Linked DNA regions of Homo sapiens. The protein of the gene in region 2 interacts with the protein of the main gene of each other region in a pairwise test. Each region holds a gene or a part of one and is shown on either strand. Other genes may lie near its edges.

Evidence for each region.
Region 1: the proteins of DHX34 (region 2) and RPS6KA6 interact in a two-hybrid assay, tested with the Homo sapiens proteins (one large-scale study listed by BioGRID and IntAct).

What each region holds. Positions count from the first base shown.
Region 1 is NC_000023.11:84,104,541-84,108,365, forward strand, and holds part of RPS6KA6 (ribosomal protein S6 kinase alpha-6), read right to left. Parts: intron 3,186-3,825; coding exon 3,083-3,185; intron 2,501-3,082; coding exon 2,370-2,500; intron 1,948-2,369; coding exon 1,825-1,947; intron 1,337-1,824; coding exon 1,247-1,336; intron 118-1,246; coding exon 1-117. UniProt on the Homo sapiens protein: Constitutively active serine/threonine-protein kinase that exhibits growth-factor-independent kinase activity and that may participate in p53/TP53-dependent cell growth arrest signaling and play an inhibitory role during embryogenesis.
Region 2 is NC_000019.10:47,366,128-47,369,952, forward strand, and holds part of DHX34 (probable ATP-dependent RNA helicase DHX34), read left to right. Parts: intron 1-853; coding exon 854-1,028; intron 1,029-3,825. UniProt on the Homo sapiens protein: Probable ATP-binding RNA helicase required for nonsense-mediated decay (NMD) degradation of mRNA transcripts containing premature stop codons. Promotes the phosphorylation of UPF1 along with its interaction with key NMD pathway proteins UPF2 and EIF4A3.

The DNA.
Region 1 (3,825 bases), on a different chromosome or scaffold from region 2:
TAGTATATCACTAGCCTCCCGTTCCGAGAAACATTTTTGTTTGAGAATACGGTCAAGTAACTCTCCTCCTTTCATTAAATCCGTAACAAGGTAAACATATCTACCATCATCAAAGACCTACAAAAGAACGCAGTTTTAAAATGTTATTATTTATAATTACAATTCTATAATTCTTAAATTAGATTTTAATTATATTTACCTTTCTACTAGACTTCCCTCTAGTATTAGAAACAAAAAAGACATTATTCCTTTACTCTTAATGCAGTACAGGCTGTACTAAAGGTTGAATTGGCTAAACAGTCACCTACACAGTCCCATGAAACCATGTTAAACATATAATTTTATTGCCTTTTGAAGTTATAGGTTGCAGTTCATCAAAGAAAGAAATTAAAAAATAGAACTCTGTGCCTCTCAAATGACCTCTATCTCAATTTTTTTACTGTATTATAGCTACTTCTCTTCCCCAAACGTAAGCTTCTTTCTGAAAGTAAATACATTATTTATTTTTTATACCCTTCCCTCAGTTCATTATCTGATTTGGTATCTTAAATACTGGTTGAATTCCAATAGTATACCAAGGAAAACAAATAAGAAAAGTATTTATACACTTTTCACTCAGGGCATGTATGATAAACACACACACACACACACCACAGTAGTTTAAAGATTACAAATCAAAGTGCATATCATTTTCTGACACAAATTGATCAAGGTGATAGTTGACTTTTCTGTCTTGTATAAAGAGAAAAGAACATTATCTCCTTATGTGAAAAGTGAGCATTCAGTAACATATTAATGAGTTATACATTCATTTTACAAAACTATAGACTAAGACTATTTCACTCCAGAAACAATCCATAATGCTATAGCCAATTACTATACAATCAAGAAAGTAAAATATTCAAGAATTTGGCAGATCCCCAGTCTCCTGTATCTTCTGTATTGATAGCACTACAGAATAATAATTGGTGTTAGCTACAATGTTAACTAGTTAACCAGCCAGAATATATTCATGTAATGAGGAAATTCTCATTTACCAATCATCATAGTTATTTTTGATATTCTATAAGACTAGAAGTATAGAATCATGGGAAAAAAAAGAATTAAAGTGGCAATTTAAGAGTCCTGAGATTTTTGAGGCATGAAAATAAATATGCTAAAGACATTAAAAGTTTCAATAAGAAAAATAAAGTTCCAATTCATAACTTCATTAGCTTAGCTGATACCTAGATTTAGAAATACCTACATCCTTCAAAGTAATAATGTTGGGATGTTGTCCATAGCGCATCAATATTTCAATCTCTTCTGAAGGGTCTCGCTTACTTTTGTCAATGATCTAAGAAATACGAAAAAAGAAAAATATCTGAGGCAAACAAATTATTTTGTCTAAAATGAGTATTTTCCATTTGGTTATATTTTTGAAGAAATGCTTAAAAACTCAAGAACAATACTTACCTCATATTATTTTAACATTTAAAAACATAAGTAAAAAACTTAACAGAAAAAAATAAAATTTTAACATTATATCCTATTTCACTGAAATTGTACCAATGATGACGTGATTGTAATTATCACAACTGCTCAATCTTAACATAATACATGTATAACAAAATTATTCAAATGCAAAAATTCATGAAATACACTGTTCCTACATAACAAAGGCTTGAAAAGAAATTCAAAAATGAAAATATTAAGTCTCAGAGTTCTTTCTCATCATCTTATCTTTCCTATCTTCATTTACTCCACTGAAAATGTTTGTCAGTTGACTCATAATTTAAATTACATGCATAAAACAAACAAGAAAGCTAGGCTCAGAGACAATACCTTCACTGCAAATTCCATGTTGGTAGTTGCATGTATGCATCGCTTGCAAACAGAGTAGGAGCCAACACCAATATCCTCCTTCAATTCATATACTTCACCAAATTGTGCAGCATTTCCATTTATCTGTTTATTTTTAAAAAGTAAAATACTAAGGAGAATGAAATATTTTCACATTTTCTGTCTTTTGTCCTAAATATACATTCATCTTAAGCCTTAAACTAGAATAATTCATTCTACAGAAGTTTTATCGACATTTATAAATGGCGTGAACCAATCCTTTCTTGATACCCACAGGCAACATAATAAAGCAACTAGCTTATACATCACCCTTCTATTTTATTCAAAAGAGGCCACATAAATATAATTAAAAGTTACCACTGTCTGCTCTTTTCCAAAACACACAGGGACATATTTAATTCATGATTTATACCAATAGATAAACAAAGAAGTTAAAAATCACTTTAAAAAAAACGATTAAAAATACATCAGCAATAACAGAGAAATAATTATCCCAAAACTGAATAATGTGATTAAGTGGAATTTACCTGAACAATTGGTAATACATTTGCACTTGTGATAGGAGTGATTTTATATTCTTCTGCAATAGAAGTTGCAACAAAGCTGAATCCTTTGAAGAGCTGATGAGCATTTGCACTGGCTGGCAAACCGGGAGAATCTAATGTCCAAATAATTACATTTAATTATAACTACACACAGAATTCTATGATATAAAGTGTCAGAATTTCTTTAACTATAAAGGAAACCATTAAATGCTACTAACATATTATATATTTGATTTATTATATATTATCTGTCTCCTCCCATCTGTATACATGCTCCATTTTAGTCAGTATTTTTTGTCTGTTCTTTTCACCACTGCATCCTCATTGCTTAGTACATAGTAGGTATTCAATATTTCTTGAGTGTATGTATGAAACTGTAAAAGACAGAGTAATATATCTCACGTCTTACCTCCTACCCCATCCTGTAAATCATTAGCATGCCAAAGGACTTATAAAACAAAGAAATAAACTTGCCACCCTTTGACCAAGTTCCTTCCTTCCTGATAAATATTTCCCATTTAAAACATCTACTTGACAGCTGCCCAAGCAATGTTTTGTATAGGATCCATATTTCCCATGGACAAATCAACTCTCTGCAAATTTACCATTCTTTTAGTTTTTACTTCACAAGAAAGTTTATTTTTAAACTATCTACTTAAATAAAATCTCTGATTTTACAGATAAACATGCATTACCTTTAGGTGTTTTTGCAGTAAATTCAGGATCAAAACAAAAAGTATCATCTGGTTTTCCAGAAGCAGGTTTGAAAGGAGGTTGAACTTCTCTTTTATATAATTTCTAGAAGGGACAACCAGATAACACAAAACGTATTAAGACTTTAAAAATTATTATACTTTGTAAAACAAAGCAGAACATAATATTCACAGTCCATAATAGAAGACTAACAATTTCATAGTTTCAGATAACTGTTAACCAAATTCTAAAATTTTGAGAGATAATGTTCAAGATGTAATGAGGCCAAGAAACATAGCAATGATGCCACAAGCTGAATTCACAAGGAATGCTCAATTTTGGATATCAGAAGTTTTTGAATGCTCATTGATAATATAACCATGCAAATACAGCACAGTAATAACTAAAATGCTCAAGGCTTTCAAAATCAATAATTATTTTTAAAAAGTGCATATTTCATCTAAAATATTGTTTTCACATAAAAAATATACGTTAAATGTACTGTTTAGGCTTGTATCAGATAATTGAAAATTTAGTCGTCTAACAATCTATCTTGCTAAAATCTATGCTTTTGAAAGGCATAGAAAATTTCTAATAATATATAAAAGCCACTTCTTTTGAAATCTATTTTTTAAAAAGCTTACAGTCCCACAGTGGGGAAAAATAAATAGGGAATTACTTTTGAGTAATTTTTATGTATTTAAATATGTAAACATGACTTTTAGTTCATTATGGCTTACTAGAA
Region 2 (3,825 bases):
TCTCATGGAAGGATTCTGATTGGTCCAGCTCAGGTCACGTGCCTCTCCTCCATGGTCTGGGGCAAGATGTGCTAGGCAGACAGATACAGAGACAGCAGCCCTCCTTGCCTGCCTCTGCACAGTGGATCTTGACATTGGGAATTTTATTTTATTTTATTTTATTTTATTTTTGAGATAGAATCTCACTCTGTGGCCCAGGCTGGAGTGCAGTGGTGCAATCTCGGCTCACTGCAACCTCCGCCTTCCAGGTTCAAGCAATTCTCCTGCCTCAGCCTCCCAAGTAGTTGAGATTACAGGCACTCGCCACCACACCTGGCTAATTTTTGTATTTTTAGTAGAGATGGGGTTTCACCATGTTGGCCAGTCTGGTCTCAAACTCCTGACCTCAAGTGATCCACCTGCTGTGGCCTCCCAAAGTGCTAGGATTACAGGCATGAGCCACTGTGCCTGGCTGACACTGGGAATTTGAGATGGAGTCTCGGTGTATTGCCAGGCTGGAGTGCAGTGCAGAGGCGCGATCTCGGCTTACTGCGATCTCCACCTCCTGGGTTCAAGCGATTCTCCTGCCTCAGCCTCCCGAGTAGCTGGGATTACAGTCATGCACCACCACTAATTTTTGTATTTTTAGTAGAGACGGGGTTTCACCATGTTGGCCAGGATGGTCTTGAACTCCTGACCTCAAGTGATCCGCTTGCCTTGGCCTTTCAAAGTGCTGGGATTACAGGCATGAGCCACAACGCCCGGCCAACACTAGGAATTTTAAAACGTCATGAATTTGTGATCTCTGAGCCCCGCTGTGCTGCACAGTGGCTCTTGTGTTCCCCAATCTTGGGGGTTTTGCTTCTCATTCTAGATGAAGAGCATGAGTGTGGGGGACCCCCGAACCTTCCCCTTCATCGAGCCCCCACCACCAGCCAGCCTGGAAACCGCCATCCTCTACCTCCGGGACCAGGGGGCCCTGGACAGCTCAGAGGCCCTCACACCCATTGGGTCCCTGCTAGCCCAGCTGCCTGTGGACGTTGTGATTGGTGAGTACCCACCCCCCTCCTGATCACTCAGGGCCCCAGGAGCGGGTATGGGCACAGCTCACTCTCTGAGTGGCCTGGGGGCAAGTCTGTTTCTTCCCTGGGTCCAGTTCATTTATTCACTCTTCACTGGGCCAGGCACTGTTCTAGGTGCTGGGCATATAGCAGTGGACAGAACAGACACAAATCTCTGGCCTCAGGGAGCTGACATTTTGGTGAAGAAGACCAGCAATACATTAGGACAATAAGGAAAAGGCATAGTAGATCAGATGGTGCCTAGTGTTCTGGAGAGAAGAAACAACGGGGTTGGGGAATGGGGAGTTGCAGTTTGTAATACAGGCCTCATGTATAAGGCAGACCTCATGGGGAAGGTAACATCTGTGCAGAGAAATGGAGATGAGGGCTAGGAGCCATGCAAATACTAGAACATGCTTGCCAGCAGAAGTCGAGAAACATGGCCGGCACAGTGGCCCACACCTGTAATCCCAGCACTTTGGGAGGCTGAGGCAGGTAGATCACGAGGTCAGCAGTTCGAGACCAGCCTGGCCAACATGGTGAAACCCTGTCTCTACTAAAAATACAAAAATTAGCTGGGTGTGGTGGCACACGCCTGTAATCCCAGCCACTTGGGAGGGTGAGGTAGGAGAATCGCTTGAACCTGGGAGGTAGAGGTTGCAGTGATGCAGTGAGCCGAGACCATGCCATTGTACTCTAGCCTGGGCGACAGAGCGAGACTCCATCTCAAAAAAAAAAAAAAAAAAAAGCAAAAACAAACAGGTGAGATTCATTTTGATAAAATAGCTGATTCAACCTAATATACCTAAAACATCACAATTTTAACATAATCAATAGAAACATTTTTGCAAGATTTTATGTTATTTTTTACCATACGACGTCTTGGAAATCTTGGTTTGGACCAGCCATGTTCAACTGCTCAGTAGCCATGTGTGGCCAGAGGCGGCCGTATTGGACAGTGCAGATGGTGCATGAGGGTGTTCGGGCAGTGGGAACAGCCAGTACAGAGGCCCTGTGGGGGCACATGCCTGCTGCTACAGGAACAGTGAGGAGCCCCGTGTGGCTGCAGTGGAGTGAGAGGGAGAAGGTGGGAGATGTAACCAACAGTCTCATCATTCATTCATTAAATCCTTTTTTTTTTTTTTTTTTTTTTTTTGAGACTGAGTTTCGCTCTTGTTGCCCAGGCTGGAGTGCAATGGTGCCATCTCGGCTCACCACAACCTCCACCTCTTGAGTTCAAGCGATTCTCCTGCCTCAGCCTCCCGAGTAGCTGGGATTACAGGCATGCGCCACCATGCCCGGCTAATTTTGTATTTTTAGTAGAGCTGGGGTTTCTCTATGTTGGTCAGGCTGGTCTTGAACTCCCGACCTCAGGTGATCTGCCCGCCTTGACCTCCCAAAGTGCTGTGATTACAGGCTTGAGCCACTGCTCCCGGTCCATTGAATGTGTGTGTGTGTGTGTGTATATATATACACACACACACACACACACACATACACACACATATATATACATACACACATATATATACACACACATATATATATGTTTTTTTTTCTTTTTGAGATGGAGTCTCGCTCTGTTGCCCAGGCTGAAGTGCAGTGGTGCAATCCCAGCTCATTGGAACTTCTGCCTCCTGGATTCAAGCAATTCTCCTGCCTCAGCCTCCTGAGTAGCTGAGACTGTAGGTGCCCGCCATCATACCTGGCTAATTTTTGTTTTGTTTTGTTTTGAGACAGTGTTTTTGCTCTGTTGCCTAGGCTGGAGTGCAGTGGTGTGATCTCAGCTAACTGCCACCTCCTGTGTTCAAGCAATTCTCCTGCCTCAGCTTCATGAGTAGCTAAAATTACAGGCTCACGCCACCACGCCTGGCTAATTTTTGTATTTTTAGTAGAGACGGGGTTTCATCATGTTGGCCAGGCTGGTCTCGAAGTCCTGACCTCAAGTGATCTGCCCACCTCAGCCTCCCAAAGTGCTGGGATTGCAGACTTGAGCCACCGTGCCCGGCCAGTATTTGTTTTTTCAGTAGAGAAGGAGTTTCACCATGTTGGTCAGGCTGATCTCAAACTACTGACCTCAAGTGTTCTGCCTGCCTCCCAAAGTGCTGGGATTACAGGCATGAGCCACTGCGCCCGGCCAATATTTGTTTTTTTAGTAGTGTCAAGGTTTCACCATGTCGGCCGTGCTGGTCTTGAACTCCTGACTTTAAGTGATCTGCCCACTTCGGCCTTTCAAACTGCTGGGATTACAGGTGTGAGCCACAGCTCCTGGCCCATTCATTAAATAATTTTTGAGCACCTGCTCTGTGCCAGGTCCTAGTCTAGATGCCAGAGATACAACAGTGAATAAAACAAAACTCCTGCCCTCACGGAGCTCACATGTAACAGGGGAGATGGACAGGGGCAGATAAATGAGTGAAAACACGGAATGTCAGCCGCTGATTGCTGCTCAGGTGGATGCAGGGCACGGTGGGCACAGTGGGGGCTGGGAGCAGTGTTAATTGGCTGTCCTGGGAGGCCAATTAACAGTGACATCTGGGCAGAGGCCTGAAGGAGGGGAGGGGACAGCTGTCCCTCTGGCCCTGGGTCAGGTGAGGAGCTTTGAATTAAATGGGAAGTGTTTAAGTGGAACTGGGTCCTAAGTGGCTGAAGGTGGCCAGAAAATTGATCAGTTGACCTGGCGGTTCTGTGAGGATCTGGAAAGGGCGGGTCCACAGAGGTCGACGGAGACCATTTTCAGTTCCCAGCCCTCCTGATCTCAGGTCTTCAGTAGCCAGTCACAAGC